Linked DNA regions of Homo sapiens: all the other regions are linked to region 2. Evidence: fine-mapped expression QTL. A gene starts in region 2. Each other region holds a variant in brackets. All regions are shown on one strand. Distances are between the middles of the regions.

Region 1 (4,015 bases), 25 kb after region 2:
GCTGCTGCTGCCTTTGAAATGGCCCCTCTTTGGGAAAGTAAGGAAGAGTCTGAGGTCCTGCAAGCCGCCCTCATGGGCCAGCTCCAGGGTGGCCAGGGAGGCCTGGAGTGGCCTCAGACGTGTCGCATAAATGGCTGTCTCAAACCTAGGGCCACAGTTGAAGCAAAAGAGGCCCTTCGGCTCCACCCTACAACCTTTTGGCCCTTGCGTCCTTTCTAACATCCTTCCCACCGAGAGGAATAAAGCAGAAAATTAGAACTACCCATAATCCCCTATCACATCAATGTTCTCTGTGAACTTCCTGTCTTTTCTTGAGGTTGAGATTGTATCTAGGATATTGATTGTTTCAGTCAAGATGGGAGCACCCCCAGGTGTTTTTCTGTTTTGTTTTGTTTTGTTTTTGAGACAGGGTCTTGTTCTGTAGACCAGGCTGGAGTGCAGTGGCGCGACCTCGGCTCACTGCAACCTCTGCTCCCAGGCTCAAGCAATTCTCCCACCTCAGTCTCCTGAGTAGCTGAGATTACAGGTGTGCACCACTATGCCCAGCTAAATTTTGTATTTTTCTGTAGAGATAGGGTTTCACTATGTTGCCCAGGCTGGTCTCAAACGCCTGGGCTCAAGTGATCCACCCGCCTCAGCCTCCCAAAGTGTTGGGATTACAGGCGTGAGCCACCATGCCCAGCCACACTCCCAGGTTTTCATGCAAGTTTAGATGAAGAGTTAGAAAATATCTATCTCATAGACCCTTTCATTATTCTTTCCCGATTTGGAAGAAAAAATCCAGTGGTCTGAGCCATTCCGGTGAGTTCTAAAGAAGAGACACTTGTGACTCAAGTCCCTGGTCCCTGACGGTGGCTGTCACGTATCTCCGGGCGACATGGCTTTTGGAGAGGGAAAACAAAACAACTTTCTAAAAGCTGTTCCGTCACAAGCATCCGGGAGGTGAACGGTTGAGCCATTGTTATTAAGCTCAGGAAGCGAGTGGCAGCTGTTATTGTTCTGAGTGGTCACTGAGTGAAGTAAAGATTCCGTCTGAGCCGCCGGGCAAAGGATGTGGCTCTAACACACTTCCTGAAGTTGCACAACAAGGGGCACAGAAAAGGTTCAGGGCATAGAAGCCTAGCACGGCCAGGGCTGCCCTGTGTGGGCTCCACAGCCATGCCAAGGACAATGGGCCCCAAGGGGGTCCGTGCTGGTGGAGGGGTTCCTTTATGCTCTGACACTCACCTTCTAGAAGCCTGCATTTTGAATTGGTTTTTCTGTCTACTGCAGAATATGGACAGATCTATTTTCCAAGCCTCTGAATATCTCAAAACATCTTTAGTTGTCTACACATTCAAGAGTAATTTGATAGATATAAAATTCTTGGAACCAACTGTTCGCTCAAAATCCTGTAAAAGGTACAGCACTACCTTCAAGAATGTAGTGTTACAGGCTGGGTGCAGTGGCTCACTCCTGTAATCCCAGCACTTTGGGAGGCTGAGGCAGGTGGATCACCTGAGGTCAGGAGTTTGGGACTAGCCTGGGCAACATGGTGAAACCCCGTCTCTACTAAAAATGCAAAACTTAGTCGGGTGTGGTGGTGCATGCCCGTAGTCACAGCTACTCCGGAGGCTGAGGTGGGAGGATCGCTTGAACCTGAGAGGCAGAGGCTGCAGCGAGCTGAGGTCTCACCACTGCACTCCAGCTGGGTGACAGAGCAAGACTGTCTCAAAGAAAAAAAAAAAAAAGAATGTAGCGTTATGAATAGTTCCGAGTACAAAATCCAAGGCCAAACTTGTGCTGGTTCCTATAGAGGCGACCCATTTTTTTCTTTTTTTCTACTTTGAAGCCGGTGGGAATTCTTTTCCAGTGTTGTCATTTTCCTTTCATTGATAGTACCTGCAATGTGTTCGGCTTGTTCACTTTGCAAACTCTGTTCTTTGACACAAAAGACCTTTCTTCTGTTAGGTCTTTGAGTAAGTTTTTATTCCAGCTCTTCTGGCATCTTTCTTCTAATCCCCTGAGAAAGCCAAGCCTCCCCCCGTTTTCTAGCCCCCTGGGGTACACATGCCTTTGTGACTGAGCAGCCCCTCCCTCTTGTGTGGCTGCAAGATCCCTAATCCCTTCCCCAGTCTGTCAGAGAATTCTGGAAAGAGTATCCATGCCATTTGTCATCTCTACCTCCAAATGACTGTCTTTATTTTCTCCCCATCCCCACTAGCCATTTTGTCCTTGTTTCTCCATGTTCCAGAGCCTTCTGGTTCACCTTGCCCCAGATCATGGGCCTGTTTCCTGTCTTTGTTACCCAAAGCGGTCTAGAACTAACATCAACATGCACCATGTAGCCGATAAGTTTAGACTGGGGAATG[G/A]GATGCAAGTGTAACCAATGAGATGTGAAGAGAAGGGCTTTGTGGGCTTCTAGTAAAGGTCTGTTTGTCTTAAAAACAGACATAGGGATAAGATAGCCTCTTTCTTTCTTTCTTTCTTTCTTTCTTTCTTTCTTTCTTTCTTTCTTTCTTTCTTTCTTTCTTTCTTTCCTTTTTGAGACAGAGTTTCGCTCTTGTTGCCCAGGGTGGAGGGCAATGGCATGATCTCGGCTCACCACAACCTCCGCCTCCTGGGTTCAAGTGATTCTCCTGCCTCAGCCTCCCAAGTAGCTGGGATTACAGGCACCTGCCACCATGCCGGGCTAATTTTTGTATTTTTAGAAGAGATGGGACTTCACTATGTTGGTCAGGCTGGTCTCGAACTCCTGACCTCAGGTAATCTGCTCGCCTTGGCCTCCCAAAGTGCTGGGATTACAGGTGTGAGCCACCGCACCCAGCCAAGATAGCCTCTTTCCTACCTTTGGAAGCTGCCATAGGATGTGATAGCTGGGTCTCTGCTGCTGCCTTGTAACCATGAGGAGAGGTAGCTGGCGAGTGAGGCCAACACACGGAAAGGAGAAGTGAACCTGGGTCCTGGATGATGCCCTTGAATTTGCTGAACAGAATGAAGCAACCTGGGATCTGCCCTCCTCTAGATTTTCTGTTTTGTGAGTTAATTAATTTCTTTTTGCTCAAGTTAGTTGAGTTAGGGTTTTCTAACAGCTAAAAGTGTCCTAACTTACAAAGGTTTAAACTATCCCAGGGGAATTTCAAAGCAGAAAAGTGAAAATTTCAAATTGAATATCGAGTTTCACTGCACCAAATGCCCATGAGCCACGGTCTGACAACACAGTCTCTGGGTCTTCCTTCTCCTTAGCCTGTGTCGTGTTTCTGGGACCTGCTCCAGCCCTGTCCCAGACATTCCTAATGACTTATGTTCCTGTCAGACATCCTTGGGCTCAACATCTCTTTCTCTAACCCTGACCAGAAAAAGCACAAAAATCAATCAGTATTTTAACAATGTCTGTGCACTGGGGAGGCATGATTTCTTGCTTATTGCAGGATGGTTTCGCTTCTCATCTTGACTTTGCCCTTCGAGATCAGCTTCCGGGTCTAATTGTGTCTGTCAGATTTGCAAGAGGCCACTTCGGGTTTGCCAAATAGAAGAAAGTCTTTCTGAGAGGCCTCACTTGATCACCCCAGAAAAATAGTCACCCCACCCTTCACCTGTTGCTCTTTAACCCCTTACCCTCCTTTCTTTTCTTTGTGGCACTTGTGACTACCTGATTTTATATTATATTTATTTATTTATTTATTTTTTTGAGACGGAGTCTCACTCTGTCACCAGGCTGGAGTGCAGTGGCACAATCTCGGCTCAGCTCACTGCAACCCCTGCCTCCCGGGTTGAAGTGATTCTCCTGCCTCAGCCTCCCGAGTAGCTGGGACTACAGGCACATGCCACCACACCCAGCTAATTTTTGTGTTTTTAGTAGAGACAGGGTTTCACCATGTTGCCCAGGATGGTCTCGACCTCTTGACCTTGTGATCTGCCCGCCTCAGCCTCCCAAAGTGCTGGGATTACAGGTGTGAGCCACCATGCCCAGCCCTGAGGTATTTGAAAATATACATTTTTATATTGACTTATTTATCATCTATACTAGAACTAT
Region 2 (4,015 bases):
AAAAAAAAATCCACCCACCAAAAGGGCAGCTCTGATCTAGATACTGGGATTTCCTGAATGTGGAGGGCAGAAGGGTGGGGGACAAGCCAGCTGACCATGCTGGATAGATCAGGCAATTGGGTGGAAAAGGAAGCAAAGTTGGGATGGGCCTTAAAAATGAGGGAAGAGTGCCCGTGTGGCGTGTGTGCCAGGGGATCTCACTCTGTGGAATGGCAAGGACCGTGGGAATAGAGGTGTGAGAGGTGGGGGGCTGGGGGTTTGGGGGAAGCTCTCTAAGTAGGGCAGTCTTGGCATGGTAGGGGTCTCTAGAGATGAGTGGGTGGAGGTGTAAAGGGACCAGTATTGCAAATGGATCCTCCTGGTGGCGTGGTCCAGGACTTCATGGATGTTGGTGGAGGCCAGCAGGGAAGTGAGAAGGGTGTGAAGGTACACAATGGGAGCATAGGAGATGACCCCATAAGGAGGGGGTGGACAGGTGCTGAGTGGAGGCGTGGGTGGGGAATGAGAGGCCTCCACACTGGGCTGCTGCAGAGGTGGCGTGCTGCGGAAGGGCCGGAGCATGGAGGCCAGTTCCCATCACCACTCTATCCCCACGCCTGGCTCCCAGCCTGGCCAGAGGTCCTTGACTGGGAGTGCTTTGTCTGCCCTACAGACTCGCCTGCCATGTGTGTTGCTCAGCGGGGAGGTGCTGGGGGCCCTGTTCTGGGACAACCATCAGTGTGACACATGTTGAGCCCCTGGGCACATGTGAGCTCTTTTACGAGCTACGTCCTTCAAGTTAGACAAGAAGAAACCAAGGCCGAGAGAGAGAAGAAACTTGACCAGGTTCCCACAGCTTGAATGTGGTGGCGCTGCCTGGCTGGTGCCCCTTCCTGGAGGGAGTCTGTTGTCATGTCCTGGAGGCCAAGGCCTGGATGTGGGATGGTGGGGGCACTCTTTGTGCAGCGGGTCAACACGTGCCCCTTCGGCCTTGGTGGGCCGGACCCAAGGACGGAAGGTGCCCAGGTCTGGGGGCTGAGGGATGGGTGTCCACCGCAGAGCCCTCAGAAATGACTGGTCCTGGATGGCGGTCCCTGGAGAGGCAGCTCCTCTTTGAGTGGTGGGCATATGTGGCCATGCCCAGTCTTGGAGGCGGTGCAGTCCGACCGGCCACCCCGACTGCTGAGACGCAGGACTCAGCACCCAGTGTTGTCCTTGGCCAGGCGGCCAGCCTGCCCTGTGGGGCTTTGGGGTTCTCCTCTCCGAGCTTGTTTCCCCAGCATCCTGGAGAAGCCCAGGGAAAAACCCAGCCTATGTTCCCGCTGTAAACGGCCCACATCCCCTCCAAGCTCCCTTTGTGTGTCTCCAAGCTGGACTGCAGGGATCAGAGCTGTGCTGCCCGTGCAGCACCCACCCGCCCCTGGGAATGAGGGTAATGGGGTCACAGAGCCATCACTTGGACCTTGGCGCCCTCGGCTGGTGGCAGCCAAGGTCTCCCAGCACCCAGGCCGCTGGGAGTCTCTAAAGGGGAGGGGTGGGGCTCGACTGTCCCCTCCCCCTCAAGTTTGCTCTGTCCTGGGCAGGCCGTAGTCCCAGTTGAGAAGCTGTGCCCCCTTGGGTGTTTTGGAGGTTCAGGGTGGGTGCTGAAAAGCCCTGAGGGAGAGCAGAAGGCTCGGGGGCCTGTCTAGGGCATGGCATCCCACGTGGGTGTCAGCACGGCCGCAGAAGAACCACTTCTCTGGCCCACCCATGCCTGCTAGGCCATGCTTCTTCAGAAGTGGCCACAACTCTCCTGACGTCTCCAGAGCCGGTCATTCCACCCAGGGGGACTTCAGCTGCCACTGGACACTTCAATTGTACGCTGCGACCAGTTGCCAGGAAGGAGAGGGCTGGCAAGAGAGCCGCGGCAGCCGTGGCAGGGTGTAGGGGACGGTGGACGGCCAGGGCCCCCCCCTCTCTCTCTTTCTCTCTCTCTCTCTTGCTTGGTTTCTGTAATGAGGAAGTTCTCCGCAGCTCAGTTTCCTTTCCCTCACTGAGCGCCTGAAACAGGAAGTCAGTCAGTTAAGCTGGTGGCAGCAGCCGAGGCCACCAAGAGGCAACGGGCGGCAGGTTGCAGTGGAGGGGCCTCCGCTCCCCTCGGTGGTGTGTGGGTCCTGGGGGTGCCTGCCGGCCCGGCCGAGGAGGCCCACGCCCACCATGGTCCCCTGCTGGAACCATGGCAACATCACCCGCTCCAAGGCGGAGGAGCTGCTTTCCAGGACAGGCAAGGACGGGAGCTTCCTCGTGCGTGCCAGCGAGTCCATCTCCCGGGCATACGCGCTCTGCGTGCTGTGAGTACAACCTGCTCCCTCCCCGGGCACAGATATGACAGAGGGGCTTAGAGGGGGCCCAGCTTTGAGATGGGTTGTTCTTATGTCACAGGACAGAGTGATCTGACATGCACACTTCCCCGCCACCCTGTCATGGACCTTGTCCTTGGAGTTCAGAGAGCTGGTCTCATGGCAGGTTTTGCAGCCTTGGAGCTGTCAGAACCACTCTGAGGCCTGATGTTACACCCCAGCTTCCCATGAGCTGTATGGACCTTGTGGCTTCCTTGGAGTCTGGGGACCGAGAGAAGGGAGTTTGGGCTTTTGGAGCCAGGAGGAAGCTCAGGGCTCTGTGGAGGTGGGTGTGTTAGAGATCAGCTCAAAGATGCCCAGCTCAGAAACCCTGAGAAGAGCAAAGGTGGCAAGGGGGACCCTTCCTGGAGCACCCAGGCTTCGGGCCCCTGGAGGAAGCTGTTGTTTGGCGAGCCAAGAATATGGGGTGAGTTTAATCAAGAAAGGACTTTCCATTCAGTCAGAAGCTGCTTTCAGGGGCCTGAGAGCAGAGGAAGTCACCATTACCACCAGCGAGCAGCCTCTTCTCTCTCCTGAGCACTTGGCTGTGACCGCTGCCCACCCCCCACCCCCTCAATTTGGGTCTCTGTCACCATCAACTCCTCCCACTGCCCGGTTGGGGATGTTACTGAATGTACCAGCTGTGCTAACAATGGAGGAACCAGCCACTTGCTGAAGGTTCCTTTCTAAAACCCCCTTCCTGTCCAGCGTCTGAAGGAGGCCCTTGCCCTGCAGCTCTCGGTCTAATCATAGGGGGGCCTTGCCCTGCAGCTCTTGGTCTAATCATTTTGCCGGGGCCTCAGGCAGTGCCGGAGTGTAGTCAGGGAAATGTGTGTCCACCTGAACATCTCAAGTAGCATCCCTGGGCTGGCAGAAATGTTCCCCCGAGCAGCCAGGGCCTTGTGCTTCTCCAGGCAGGAGGGGAATTGGGTGATGAACCCAGACCTGTTTTGAATACTGACTCACAGCTGGGACCTGTCGTGCTAAGCATTTGTTAGCCCATTTCATCCTCACCACAACCTAAAGTGAAGGTCCTGTTAAAAGCCCCACTTTGCAGATGAGAAATCTGAGGCCCTGGCAGGTTAAGTGAGTGACAACAGTCAAAGCCACGGCCATCTGCCCCCAGAGGCTGCAGCTGAGACCAGCAGCCTGTGGCCCAACCTCTCCTGCTCCCAGTCCAGCGGGGCAGGCATGTAGCCTTGCAGGGCTGGAGAAAGAAGCAAGGGGAGCCACAGTGTTTACAGGGTCAGCTGGGGCACTGGAAACCAAGCCAGGCTCGCAGCTGGTCGCTGGCCTGTGCTGACAGTCTGCAGCCCCACCTCCAAAGACTGGTTTCCTGTGTCCCCTCTCTCATGCCTCAGGGGAAGGAACGCAGGCCCAGGCTGCCTGGACTTCCCCAGTGGGGACCTGCTGCTGCCGGGGCCTTAGAAGGAGCAGGAAGATTCTCTTAGGCCTCTCACAAGCCCAGTCTGACTCCACCTGGCCCATGTGGGTTACTTGGATTTCTCTCCTGGCCCAGTGGGATCTTGTCCTGGCTGTTTGGTGTTGGCTGAGCCGAGGGCTTCCAGGGCCCCATCTCATTAACCTTCAACACAGCCCTTTGACCAGGGCTTGCTTTGTGGTTGCTCAGGTTACAGACATGGGGCGTGGGTCTCTCT
Region 3 (4,015 bases), 100 kb after region 2:
GTAAAATTTCTGTCTTTGCAGGTTGAAACAGTCAAACACTGGTCATGTCATATGTTACACCCTGAAATTTGTGTACTTTGTTAAAGTCCGCCTGCTCTATTGATTGCATCCTAAGAGAGGGCCAACTGAGGCTGCTTGGTGCCCCACTGGGTACCCCAGAAAAATACGTGAAAAATATTGAGTAGGCTATGAAAGCCTTCATGTCCTCTCTTCTTTTTAATTAGTTTCTTTAATTTAAATGTTCTTTCATTACATAAGTAATCTATTCTCCTTGGTGAAGACGTGGCAAACACAAACAAGCAAATGTTTAAAATAAAAACACTCGTATACCATGAGTTAATCTGGGACTATGCCCCTTCCAGATGTTTTTTAATTTTCTCTTTCTTTCTTCCTTCCCTTCTTTCTTTCTTTTTCTGTTTCTTTTCTTTTCTGAGACAGGGTCTTGTTCAGTTGCCCCGGCTGAAGTGCAGTGGCAAGATCATGGCTCACTGCAACCTCAACTTTCTGGCCTCAAGTAATCCTCCCACCTCAACCTCCTAAGTTGGGAGGGACTACAGGCATGCACCACCATGCCTGGCTAATTTTTTTATTTTTTGTAGAGGCAGGGTTCCCCTATGTTGCCCAGGCTGGTCTCAAACTCCTGGGATCAAACAATCCTTCTGCCTCAGCCTCCCAAAGTCCTGGGATTACAGGCATGAGCCACTGTGCCAGGCCCAAATGTTTTATTAAAAATGCAATGATGCTATTCATATCATTTGTCAACTAGCTTTTCATGCTTAAAAATATATATTGTGGCCACCTGTCCTTGTTGGCAAGATAGTTCTGGATCACACTTGTTAAACACTGTGATATTCTAGTTTATGGATGGTCTAGAATACTTTTTTTTTTTGAGACAGACTCTAGCTCTGTTACCCAGGCTGGAGTGCAATGATGCGATCCTGGCTCACTGCAACCTCCACCTCCTGGGTTCAAGCAATTCTTCTGCCTCAGCCTCCCGAGTAGCTGGCATTACAGGCAAGCACCACCACGCTTGGCTAATTTTGTATTTTTAGTAGAGACAGGAGTTTCACCATGTTGGTCAGGCTGGTCTCGAACTCCTGACCTCAGGTGATCCACCCACCTCGGCCTCCCAAAGTGCTGGGATTACAGGCATGAGCCACCACACCTGGCCCTCTGATACATTATTAATGAATCTCCTAAGGCTGGACAGTAAGGTTGCTTCTGATTTTTTTCTGTGCTGAGGCCTGTGCTGCAGAGCCGTGACAGGGTTGGACTTCTGCGCAGCTCCTGATCACTTTGTTAAAGTCGCACCTTTGCAGGGGAGTGTCTAGGCCAGAAGCCACTCGCTTATGACTTTGGACACATGTTTCCAGGTTGCTGTCCTGGAAGTTCACACTGATTTACGCTCCTCTCAGTTTTCTTGAAGCTGACCAAGTCCTTTGCAAAGTGTAATGTGCAGGGAGGCAGAGGCCTTTCTAAGTCTGTCTGCCCTTCCATCCCTAGAAGAGAGAAGGCTTCTGCCAGCTCCTGCAGCAGATGAAGAACAAGCACTCAGAGCAGCCGGAGCCCGACATGATCACCATCTTCATCGGCACCTGGAACATGGGTGGGTCCGCGCGCCCCCTCCCTGCAGTCACCCCCTCTGCTTCTGCTTTCCTGACTCAGGCATCCTCAAGGTGGGGTGGAGTGACGACATCCATGTCCCCTTCCTTCCTGCCCC[A/T]GGGCCCTGCCCCTAAGCCCCAGCCCACCCGCACAACCTCCTTCCTGAGGAATTCCACCCTTTTCCTGAGATGATGGGTAAGAAAAACGAGCTTTGGGACTATCGTACCCCAAGAGCAGCTGGCGTGGGTTACTCTGTATGTCTAAATTGGAAAGTTTTAGGGAAAGAGTCTGAATATCTAGGTGAAGGGGCTCATGGGAACCCTGCCAGCCCTAGGCAGCTCACCAAGGGGCCCCAGGCCTGAGAGAAAGAAGTCCACCCTGAGTAGGGTTGCCAGATTTATCAGGAGAGAGACAGAGAGAGACAGAGAGATAGGTACGTAGACAAAGGATGCCCAGTTAAATTTTAACTTCATAGAAACAATTTTTTTTAGTATATGTTTAGCTACAAACAAATAAATACTAAATATATATGCTCATAGACATTATGCTGAATATATAGTATATATACATATGCTAAATAAGTGTAATTATTATATTAAATATGAATTATACTAAGTAATATTAGTTTAAGCATACAGCTAATAATATACTAAATATATGCTAAATATATTTTGTATTAAACATATATATTGTGTATTTACTAAACACATGCACTCTACTAAATATAAATAATACTAAATAATTTTTTAGTGTAAGTGTTCAGGTAGAAATAAATTAGATAGAAGACATCCAGATAAACTTATTCTAAAAACTACCAGTTTATCTGAAATTGGAATTTCACTGGGTGTCGTGTGTCCCCTACCCTTGTCCTGAGAGGAGTCTGGGAGGAAGAGGGTGAGCAGTGGCTGGCAGGGGCCTCCTGGAAGTGAAGTGACAGCTTGTCACTCGTGTCCCAGGGCCACAGCAGCCGTGGAGTAGAGCCCGGGCCAGTGCCCCAGGGGGTCACTTGTCCCCTTCGGTCCCTTTCAGTGTTTCTAATAAGAGACAATAGTCTGCCTGATCTCCTCCCTCTGGACATGGTCAGGGATGTCCATGACACAAGGGCAGGGGTGCCCTTCCCACAGAAGAGTATGGAAGGAGCCAGCTGAGGCCATGCCGCAGGAGGGCCGGGGACCCACCAGCCCGGGGGTTCGGGCACCCACTTTGAGCCTCTTGGGGGAGCAGAATTTAGCCACAGTCCATTTACTCCAATGCTTGGCTTCTTTGCACTTGTAAGGCAAGAAGCTCATCTCTTTGAGGAACAAAGTTTGCTCATCCTTCAAGGGCATTGTAGGGAGAACCGTTCAAAATTTCTTGATTGAGCTTCTTCAACTCAGTTTTGAAATGGGAATGCGGAGGAGTTTCCACACTCTCCCGTTTCTCTGGCTCACACCCAGGCATCCCTCCGCTCTGGGCTGGGATCTGTCTTGCAAGGGAGACTTTGTTGTCTCCCAACAATGGGTTAGAACCCGCCATCTAAAACTTGTCAGTTCCCTTGGCTGTCTTGAGAATAGGATGTGAGTTCCTTGAGGGACAGGACTGTGTCTCAATTATCGTAGCCTCAAAGTGCAGGACAGTGTCTGACATCAGGGAATCTTCTGGTGTTTCTATACCTTGAAACTTGACATTACGTTTAAAAAGAGGCTTAACTGAGCTCTAGCCCTAACCGACATCCTGGGTGAGGTTGGCGCCCAGGCCTCCATTGCAGGCATTTCTTTGGGCTGCCTGGATGGTCTTGTGTAATGACGTGACCTCCCTCACACTCCCGCCCTCTGTTTTGAATTCTCCTAATGCTTTGACTCGATGTGCCTTTGACTCACTTGGTGTTGGGTTTTGCTGTTGAAGGTAACGCCCCCCCTCCCAAGAAGATCACGTCCTGGTTTCTCTCCAAGGGGCAGGGAAAGACGCGGGACGACTCTGCGGACTACATCCCCCATGACATTTACGTGATCGGCACCCAAGAGGACCCCCTGAGTGAGAAGGAGTGGCTGGAGATCCTCAAACACTCCCTGCAAGAAATCACCAGTGTGACTTTTAAAACAGTGAGCAGCTGGCTGCACGCTGGGTGGGCTTCCGGGATAGAATCTTTGCTCGGCTGGGCTGTCTCAGAGGCAAGGGTGGGCTCAGCCTATCAGCTCTCAGTTTTCAAGGATGTCTGGAGGCCCCCACTGAGAGATGCGTCTGTATTCAGAAATAAATGGGATCTGTGGGGTATTGCTGAAAACCACTGAGTCCTCTATCTTCCCACCCTTGGTCAGCCCCGGTTCTCATCTTTAGGATGTTTTGTCTCGCCTATCAAGCATCGCTGGGAGTCCCCCGAAGGGTTGGGATTACAGACAGGATACCCCATACCCAGGGGCTGCGGCTGGGGCTG
Region 4 (4,015 bases), 120 kb after region 2:
CCTGCCTGAGGCTATTTTATAGTTAACATTTTCTTATAAGTAGGAATACACTCTAATGATAAATAATATCGTAAACACGGAAATGAGTGACAGTTGTTTATCATTATCAAATATTATGTACTGAACAGAATTGTACTGTTATGCTTTTACACAGCTGGCAGTGCAGTGGGCTGGTTTGCACCAGCATCCCCAGAAGCATGTGAGTAATGTGTTGCGCTGTGACGTGATGACAGCTACAGCAGCACTACGTGATGGGGATTTTCCAGCTCCATTATAATTTTGTAGGACCTCTGTCCTATATGCAGTCCATTACTGTGGTACATGACTATTTGTGGAGCCCCACGGGTAATTCTCAGAGGCAGCTGATGCCGAGAACTGCAATGTTAAGAAGTAACTGTTTAGGCTGGGCACAGTGGCTCATGCCTGTATTCCCAACACTTTGGGAGCTGAGGCAGGTAAATCATTTGAGGCCAGGAGTTTGAGACCAGCCTGGCCAACATGGCGAAACCCCATCTCTACTGAAAATACAAAAATTAGCCAGGTGTGGTGGCGCACTCCTGTGATCCCAGCTACTCAGAAGGCTGAGTCAGGAGAATTGTTTGAATCCGGCAGACAGAGGTTGCAGTGAGCTGAGATTGCCCCACTGCACTCCAGCCTGGGCAACAGAGTGAGACCCTGTCTCAAAAAAAAAAAAAAAAAAAGGACTTAACTAACTGTTAGGCAGAATCAATGAAAACTAAAAATGCACCTATTCTATGATTCAGTAATTCCGCTTTGGTGTGTGTTCAAGAGAAATTTGTATATTTGTTCACCAAAAATAGGTATAAGAATGTTTAGCCGGGCATGGTGGCTCACGCCTATAATCCCAGAGCTTTGGGAGGCCAAAGCAGGTGAATCACCTGAAGTCAGGAGTTCCAGACCAGTCTGGCCAACACCGCGAAACCCGTCTCTATACAAAATTAGCCGGGCATGCTGATGGGCGCCTGTAATCCCAGCTACTCGGGAGGCTGAGGCAGGAGAATCACTGGAACCTGGGAGGTGGAGATGGTGGTGAGCCGAGACCATGCCACTGCACTCCAACCTCAGCAACAGGGCGAGACTCCATCTCAAAAAAAAAAAAAAAAAAAAAAATGAATGTTTATGGCAGCCTTGTTTGTAATCTTCAAAACTGAAAACAACCCTATGTCCATTAACAGTAGAGTAGATAAATGTGATACTTATAAACAATGGAACTTTTATAAGCAACGAAGTGGCTGAAGGAGTCCAACATAAAAGAGTATCTACTGAGTGAGTCCATTTATATACGTTCATATAAATTAATCAATGGAGATGTTAGTCACACTAATGCTCACCTTTAGGAGGCTCTGGTATTGACAAGGAAGGCTTATGAGGGAAGCTTTAGGATGATGGCGGTTTTCTGTATCTTGCTCTGGGTAGTGGGTAAGTGGGTTTATACAAACCTAAAAATGCATGGGACTGTACACTTATGGTTAGTACACTTTATGTAAGTTGTACCTAAAGTTTTTTTTAAAAAGTGAATGGTTCAGAAGTAGAGAGAATGAAAATAAAAACTTTTGTTTTTTTTTTTTTGAGATGGAGTTTTGCTCTTATTGCCCAGGCTGGAGTGCAGTGGCGCAATCTCAGCACACCACAACCTCCACCTTCTGGGTTCAAGCGATTCTCCTGCCTCAGCCTCCTGAGTAGCTGGGATTACAGGCATGCGCCACCATGCCCGGGTAATTTTGTATTTTTAGCAGAGATGGGGTTTCGCCATGTTGGTCAGGGTGGTCTCGAACTCCCGACCTCAGGTGATCCACCCGCCTTGGCCTCCCAAAGTGCTGGGATTACAGGCATGAGCCACCATGCCCAGCCTGAAAATAGAACATTCTTGAAAGAAAATTGGTAAAAGGAAGAAAAGAGAAAAGTAATTGAAGGAGATGACAGAGATAAGCTCTTTCAGGATGAGTTCCTTTATGTTTGTAGACAGAGAAGAAAGAGCTAGAACATGAGGGGATAAGGATATTGATAAAAGAGGGTTGTTATTGCCAGTTTACCTTGTCTATCCCACCTAATGGACATCTTGCTCATCATTGCAGCCTGAGGCCCTGGAGAGGGCTTGTCATATAGTATTAATAGATACTGTTTGAGTGATTGGATAAGTAGGTAGACGGGTGTGTGAA[C/T]GGTCAATGGATGAGTGGATGGGTGCGATGGATGGATGGATGGATGGATGGATGGATGGATGGATGGATAGGCGAATGGATAGGTGGGTGGGTGGGTGGATGGATGGATGGATAGATAGATGGATGTGTGGGTGGGTGAATGGATGGATGGATGGATGGGTGGATAGGTGGATGGATGGGTGGATAGGTGGGTGAATGGGTGAATGGATGATAGCCATATGGTGGTAGTGTGGATGATGATGATGATGATGATGATGTGTGGTGTGAGGATGATAATGGATTGATGATGTGTGGGTTGGTGGAGGATGATAAATGATGATAGGTGGATGGGTGGATGGATGGATGGCTAGTCGGTGGGTGGATGGATGGGTGGGTGGGTGGATGGATGAGTGGATGAATAGGTGGATGGGTGGATGGATGAAATGGACAGGTAGTTGGATGGATGGGTGGATGGATAGATGAATGAATAGGTAGATAAGTGGATGGGTGGATGGATGAATGAATAGGTGGGTAGGTGGATGGATGGATGGGTGAATGAGTAAAGATGGGTAGATGGGGAGATGAAAAGGTGGACAGATGGATGAATAGAACTGGGGGTGGAAGCTGAAGTGTGTTATTAAAGTAAGTGACTGCAGAAAGTGAGCAGAGACTGAGCTGAAAATACAGGTGGGGGTTCATCTGAGTCAGAAAGAAAGTAAGAGAAGGTGAAGATACAAGGGATACTGAAGTAGTCAGGAGGATATGTGAGGGAATACAGCAAGGTGAGTTATCTTAGTCTAAAGAAGAAGGCGTGGCAGTGGAGTCTGGACTTGAGCCATGTGAAAAAAGTTTAAAGCCACCTACAGGGAAATTCTATAAAAAGCCAACAGCCGATGAATTTGAGGATTACAGAGGCCACCAGTTAATCTGTTCTTTTACTGATTAAAAAAATAATAATAAGAGGCATTTTTTAAAGCCTATGACTTTGATTTGCAGATGAAGTACAACTTGCCTTCCTGGTGTGACCGAGTCCTCTGGAAGTCTTATCCCCTGGTGCACGTGGTGTGTCAGTCTTATGGTGAGTTCAAACACTGGGGAAAGCAGAACAGGATCAGAGAATGGCACCAAGCTGGGAGGTGTGACTGCCCTAAAATCTAAGGGCTTCAGTCTGTTGATGTGTCAAAGGGAGGAATTCACTGTAACCCTAATCAGGCGACCTGGAAATGTTGATGCTTCCCTGCCTGTCTTGTGCTGCCACCTAATCCATATCCCCTGCTTTAGGAGACATTTGAATTATAGAGCACTTTTTTTCTTTTTCTTTTTGAGACGGAGTCTCACTCTGTCACCCAGGCTGGAGTACAATGGCATGATCTCATCTCACCACAACTTCTACCTCCTGGGTTCAAGCGATTCTCGTGCCACAGCCTCCCCAAGCAGCTGGGATTACAGGCTCCTGCCACCATGCCTGGCTAATTTTTGTATTTTTAGTAGAGACGGGGTTTCACCATGTTGGCCAGGCTGGTTGCAAACTCCTGACCTCAGGTGGTCAGCCCACCTCGGCCTCCCAAAGTGCTGAGATTACAGGCATGAGCCACCGCGGCCGACCCGGAGCACTTTTTTAAAAATTCAGTTTTATTTCTTTTGAAAAGAACATATTAAGTGTGAACCATATGAAAGTGTTTTTGTAGGTCAGAAATAGTTATTGGAAATTCATATGGCTCAAACTAATACATGTCGCAAGTGTGTACACATATATACACATATATATTTGGGGAGGTTTAACCATAAATTGAGTTAAATTGATTTTTAGAAGGCATAACATGTAATATTAAAATAAATAATTATGGAATAAGTTA
Region 5 (4,015 bases), 110 kb after region 2:
AGATTGCCAGAGCTCAGTAGTTTGAGACCAACCTGGGCAACACGGTGAAACCTCGTCTCTACTAAAATACAAAAAATTAGCTGGGTGTGGTGGTGGGTGCCTGTAGTCCCAGCTACTCCTGAGGCAGAGACAGGAGAATTGCTTGAACCTGGGAGACGGAGGTTGCAGTAAGCAGAGATCGCGCCACTGCACTCCAGCCTGGGAGACAGAGTGAGACTCTGTCTCCAAAAAAAAAAAAAAAAAAAAGAAAGAAAGGAAGAAAAGAAAATGATGGGAGCCAAATAGATCATAAATAAATAGATTTATGATCAAAATAGATTACAATTTGATTTATTACAATCAATAGATCAAATTTTCTAGTAGCCACATTAAAAAGAAAACAAGTGAAATTAATTTCAATAATAGATTTTATTGAATTTCATACATCCAAAATACAATTATTTCAATAGATATTTAATGTAAAAGGTTATTAGATATTTTACAGTCTGTGTTTCTTACCAAGGCCACAATTCCAATGTGTATTTTACACTCACAACCTGTCTCATTTTGTACCAGCCACATTTCAGGTGTTTGATAGTCACATGTGGCCTGTGCCTGTATTGGACAGAGCAGGTTCTCACCTGCATGTGTCAGAATCACCTAGAGCAGGGGTTAACAAGCGTTTTCCATAGAAGGCCAGATGGTGAATATTCTAGGCTCTTTGGGCCACACAACTGTCACAATGCTTCAGCTCTGCCATCGTAGTCTGAAAGCAGCTACAGACAATCCAGAAGTCAATAGGCATGGCTGTGTTCCAGTAACGTGTTCTTTACGAACACTGAAATTTGAATTTCGTATTTTCATGAATGACAAAAGATGGTTTTTCTTTTGATTTGTTTCCAACCATTTACAAATGTAAAACCATTTGTAGCTGGCAGTGAGCCAGCATTTGCCCACCCCTGACACTGGAGGGCTTGTCAAACACAGATTACTGGGCCCCATCCCAGGATTTCAGATTCAGTAGGTCTGGGGTGGGGCTGAGAATCTGCCCTTCCATGAAGTTCCCAGGTGATGTGCAGCTGCTGGTCCAGGGAACTCCCTTTGGGAACCACTGACCTAGAATAGATCAGAACGTTGGCAGAAAAAGGTATGATCTCAGTGTGGGTTTTTGGTCTCCCCAGGAAACTTGAGTTCACTGGGAGGGAGATCAGCCCACCCAGGCTGGAACCTTCTGAATCTTCCCAGGGCTTCTGGCTGCCCGCTTAGCACCCTGGTCACTTTAGAGAGAGATGCCGGGGGAGGATCGCAGCAGCCACCTTCCTCTGCCCCGCCGAGAAGGCTGAGGCTGCCGCCATCTGCACTGCTCCTGCATTTTCTCATCTCCCGCTCTCTGCCCAGCGGCTCCCACCCTGCACGACCCTGTTTCGCCCATCCCTTGCCAGCTCCTCACTCACTGCCCCTCTCACCCTGCCTTCGGGTGATTTCTGGCCCCTTGGCAAGTGTGTCTGTTTGATATTTTGATTCTTCTTTCTGCTCTTCTTTTTAGGGAACAAGGGAGCCGTGGGGGTGTCGTTCATGTTCAATGGAACCTCCTTAGGGTTCGTCAACAGCCACTTGACTTCAGGAAGTGAAAAGAAACTCAGGTAATGGAACTCCTTCCCCCCAAGAGTGTGCATTTGGGCTGTCTGCCCAGACACGCCTCACACCTTTAAGCACCAGAAGGACCTGCTCAGCTCCTGCCTTTGACCTTGTGGATGTCCTGTGGCCTTTCAGGGCCCACCACAGTCTCATCAAAGGCAACTGCAGCACC[A/C]TAGTGACCTCACGTGTGGAGGAATTTTGTCTGAAGGTCAGAAAAGATATTTCCTTGTGTCATTAGCCTGATGGACCGCTAACTAGCACTGTTTCTAAAGCAGAAAGCCTCCTCTGGGGCCTCCTTACAAATCCAAGCTGATCTTGCCTAGCTGGGGCCCAGGAATGAAGACAGCCATCTAGAATCTTCACTGTTCTGATTCTCTGCTGAGCAGATGCTGCTGCTCCTGGTCCCCTGCCCTCTGTACACCCAATGTGGCCTCAAATGCCCTTTGCATCCTGGCTGTGCCATATTTGCACACTAAGGAGTTCTGCTGCAGCAGGGCTGGAGGGCTAAGTCTCACTTCCCCCCACCTGCTATGCTCCTCGCCCCACACCTATGGCAGGAGTGACTTCCTGCCACAGTGGAGGGGGAACCAGTGACCCCGTGCTAGATGGCCGCTTTTTCCTTGCATTAGGCGAAACCAAAACTATATGAACATTCTCCGGTTCCTGGCCCTGGGCGACAAGAAGCTGAGTCCCTTTAACATCACTCACCGCTTCACGCACCTCTTCTGGTTTGGGGATCTTAACTACCGTGTGGATCTGCCTACCTGGGTAAGGGCTGCCCGCCTGGGGCTGGGGCTGGGGCTGTATGAGATGGAGGCTCCCTTGAGTCAGCTTGGGGCAGGTGGTCGTGGAGACATGTGAATCAAGTGGGCTGAGGCGGCTGCTCCCCTTGGGGGCTCAACGCTGTTTCCATTACTGAGCCTCAGCCGCTCCTCACGGTTCCCCTGTGCTCACACCCGGTTCCCATAACTGTCACAGCCACCCTGCCACCATCACTCTGCAGCCCGGGTCATCCAGCTGCCCGCCCCCAGCCCCGAAGCTTGTCAGGCCTGGATCAGCAGGGCTTCTCACCAGAGGCCCGGGCATGTTCTTGTTCCAGGAGGCAGAAACCATCATCCAGAAAATCAAGCAGCAGCAGTACGCAGACCTCCTGTCCCACGACCAGCTGCTCACAGAGAGGAGGGAGCAGAAGGTCTTCCTACACTTCGGTAAGAGCAGCAACCCCGGCTGGGAGCGGTGGCTCACACCTGTAATCCCAGCACTTTAGGAGGCCGAGGCGGGCGGATCACGAGATCAGGAGATGGAGACCATCCTGGCTAACACAGTGAAACCCCGTCTCTACTTAAAAAAATACAAAAAATTAGCCGGGTGTGGTGGCGGGTGCCTGTAGTCCCAGCTACTTGGGAGGCTGAGGCAGGAGGATGGTGTGAACCAGGGAGGCAGAGCTTGCAGTGAGCCAAGATCGCGCCACTGCACTCCAGCCTGGCCAACAAAGACAGACTCCGTCTCAAAAAAAAAAAAAAAAAAAGCAGCAGCCTCTCCTCTTGGAGCCTTTCCAGCCATCCTTTCGTCCCCTTTCCCCTGATTTCCTACCAGAAGAATAGGGAAAATTGGCCAGATGCAAAACCTGGGGAATCAGAATTAAAACGAAAGTCTCTCTGTTTCAGAGGAGGAAGAAATCACGTTTGCCCCAACCTACCGTTTTGAGAGACTGACTCGGGACAAATACGCCTACACCAAGCAGAAAGCGACAGGGGTGAGTCCTCTTCATAGACACCTTCCCTGCCCTCCATCTCCTCCCCGCTGGTGTCTGTTCCCAAAAGGTGAACAGAAAGTGTCTTCATCCATTAGGCAAAAAAAAAAGGAAAGAAAAAAATTAGAAAGCACATGTTGATTTGTGTTACAGAGTAAATGGGAAGCCACACTTGTGCACTGCTTTGAGCTGGGAAAATAACCCTTGTGATTTACCTTCTGTCCAGATACTCTAAGATGCTGAGAGGACTTTAAAGTATTATTTCCTTAACTGGGTTCTGAAGATCATTTTTTTAAAGTCCCGTGATCAAATATATTTACTAAACTGCTGAGTGAATTAACATTAAGCAGGTTTCTTCGCTGCAGGACTTATCAGAGCTTTTATGGGCCCAAGAGCACTGTGGTTCTCCATGAGGAAATCTGTATGCCAAACTCAGTTATTCATGGAACACCAATTAATGTCTTATGAGGCCACTTGTTTTCCAAGGAACAGTGTTTTGGGGAAAGATGCAATAAAATATGTATTCATTTGTTCAAAGATATTTCCTGATGGCCTATTATGGGTTAGGCACTCTCCTAGGTGATGGGAGAGCAAAGATGTCTTTTCCAGGGACTTCACAGTAGGAAAAACAGATATGCAACTAGC

Evidence for each region. PIP is the estimated chance that this variant, and not a neighbour inherited with it, causes the effect.
Region 1: its variant is fine-mapped to the expression of INPP5D in whole blood (TOPMed, PIP above 0.99).
Region 3: its variant is fine-mapped to the expression of INPP5D in whole blood (TOPMed, PIP above 0.99).
Region 4: its variant is fine-mapped to the expression of INPP5D in blood mononuclear cells (TOPMed, PIP above 0.99). The same link has a PIP of 0.9 or more in skeletal muscle.
Region 5: its variant is fine-mapped to the expression of INPP5D in whole blood (TOPMed, PIP above 0.99). The same link has a PIP of 0.9 or more in blood mononuclear cells.

Annotation. Positions count from the first base shown.
Region 1 is chr2:233,083,671-233,087,685 of GRCh38, forward strand. All of the region lies in intron 2 of INPP5D (inositol polyphosphate-5-phosphatase D), which reads left to right. Among named protein-coding and RNA genes, the nearest start is that of INPP5D, 25 kb to the left of the region's middle. RefSeq lists a silencer at 869-1,163 and an enhancer at 1,154-1,203. The variant G/A (reference allele first, on the strand shown) is at 2,352.
Region 2 is chr2:233,058,304-233,062,318 of GRCh38, forward strand. INPP5D (inositol polyphosphate-5-phosphatase D) reads left to right here and starts at 2,039. Exons shown (of 27, transcript NM_001017915.3): 1 at 2,039-2,309. The coding sequence starts at 2,176. RefSeq lists enhancers at 1,714-1,993, 2,594-2,683, 3,770-4,015 and a silencer at 2,194-2,273.
Region 3 is chr2:233,160,221-233,164,235 of GRCh38, forward strand. It overlaps INPP5D (inositol polyphosphate-5-phosphatase D), which reads left to right. Exons shown (of 27, transcript NM_001017915.3): 11 at 1,504-1,606; 12 at 3,487-3,683. Among named protein-coding and RNA genes, the nearest start is that of ATG16L1, 89 kb to the right of the region's middle. RefSeq lists an enhancer at 3,439-4,015. The variant A/T (reference allele first, on the strand shown) is at 1,721.
Region 4 is chr2:233,174,110-233,178,124 of GRCh38, forward strand. INPP5D (inositol polyphosphate-5-phosphatase D) reads left to right here. Exons shown (of 27, transcript NM_001017915.3): 18 at 3,156-3,237. Among named protein-coding and RNA genes, the nearest start is that of ATG16L1, 76 kb to the right of the region's middle. The variant C/T (reference allele first, on the strand shown) is at 2,181.
Region 5 is chr2:233,167,780-233,171,794 of GRCh38, forward strand. INPP5D (inositol polyphosphate-5-phosphatase D) reads left to right here. Exons shown (of 27, transcript NM_001017915.3): 14 at 1,526-1,622; 15 at 2,247-2,385; 16 at 2,717-2,825; 17 at 3,285-3,373. Among named protein-coding and RNA genes, the nearest start is that of ATG16L1, 82 kb to the right of the region's middle. The variant A/C (reference allele first, on the strand shown) is at 1,790.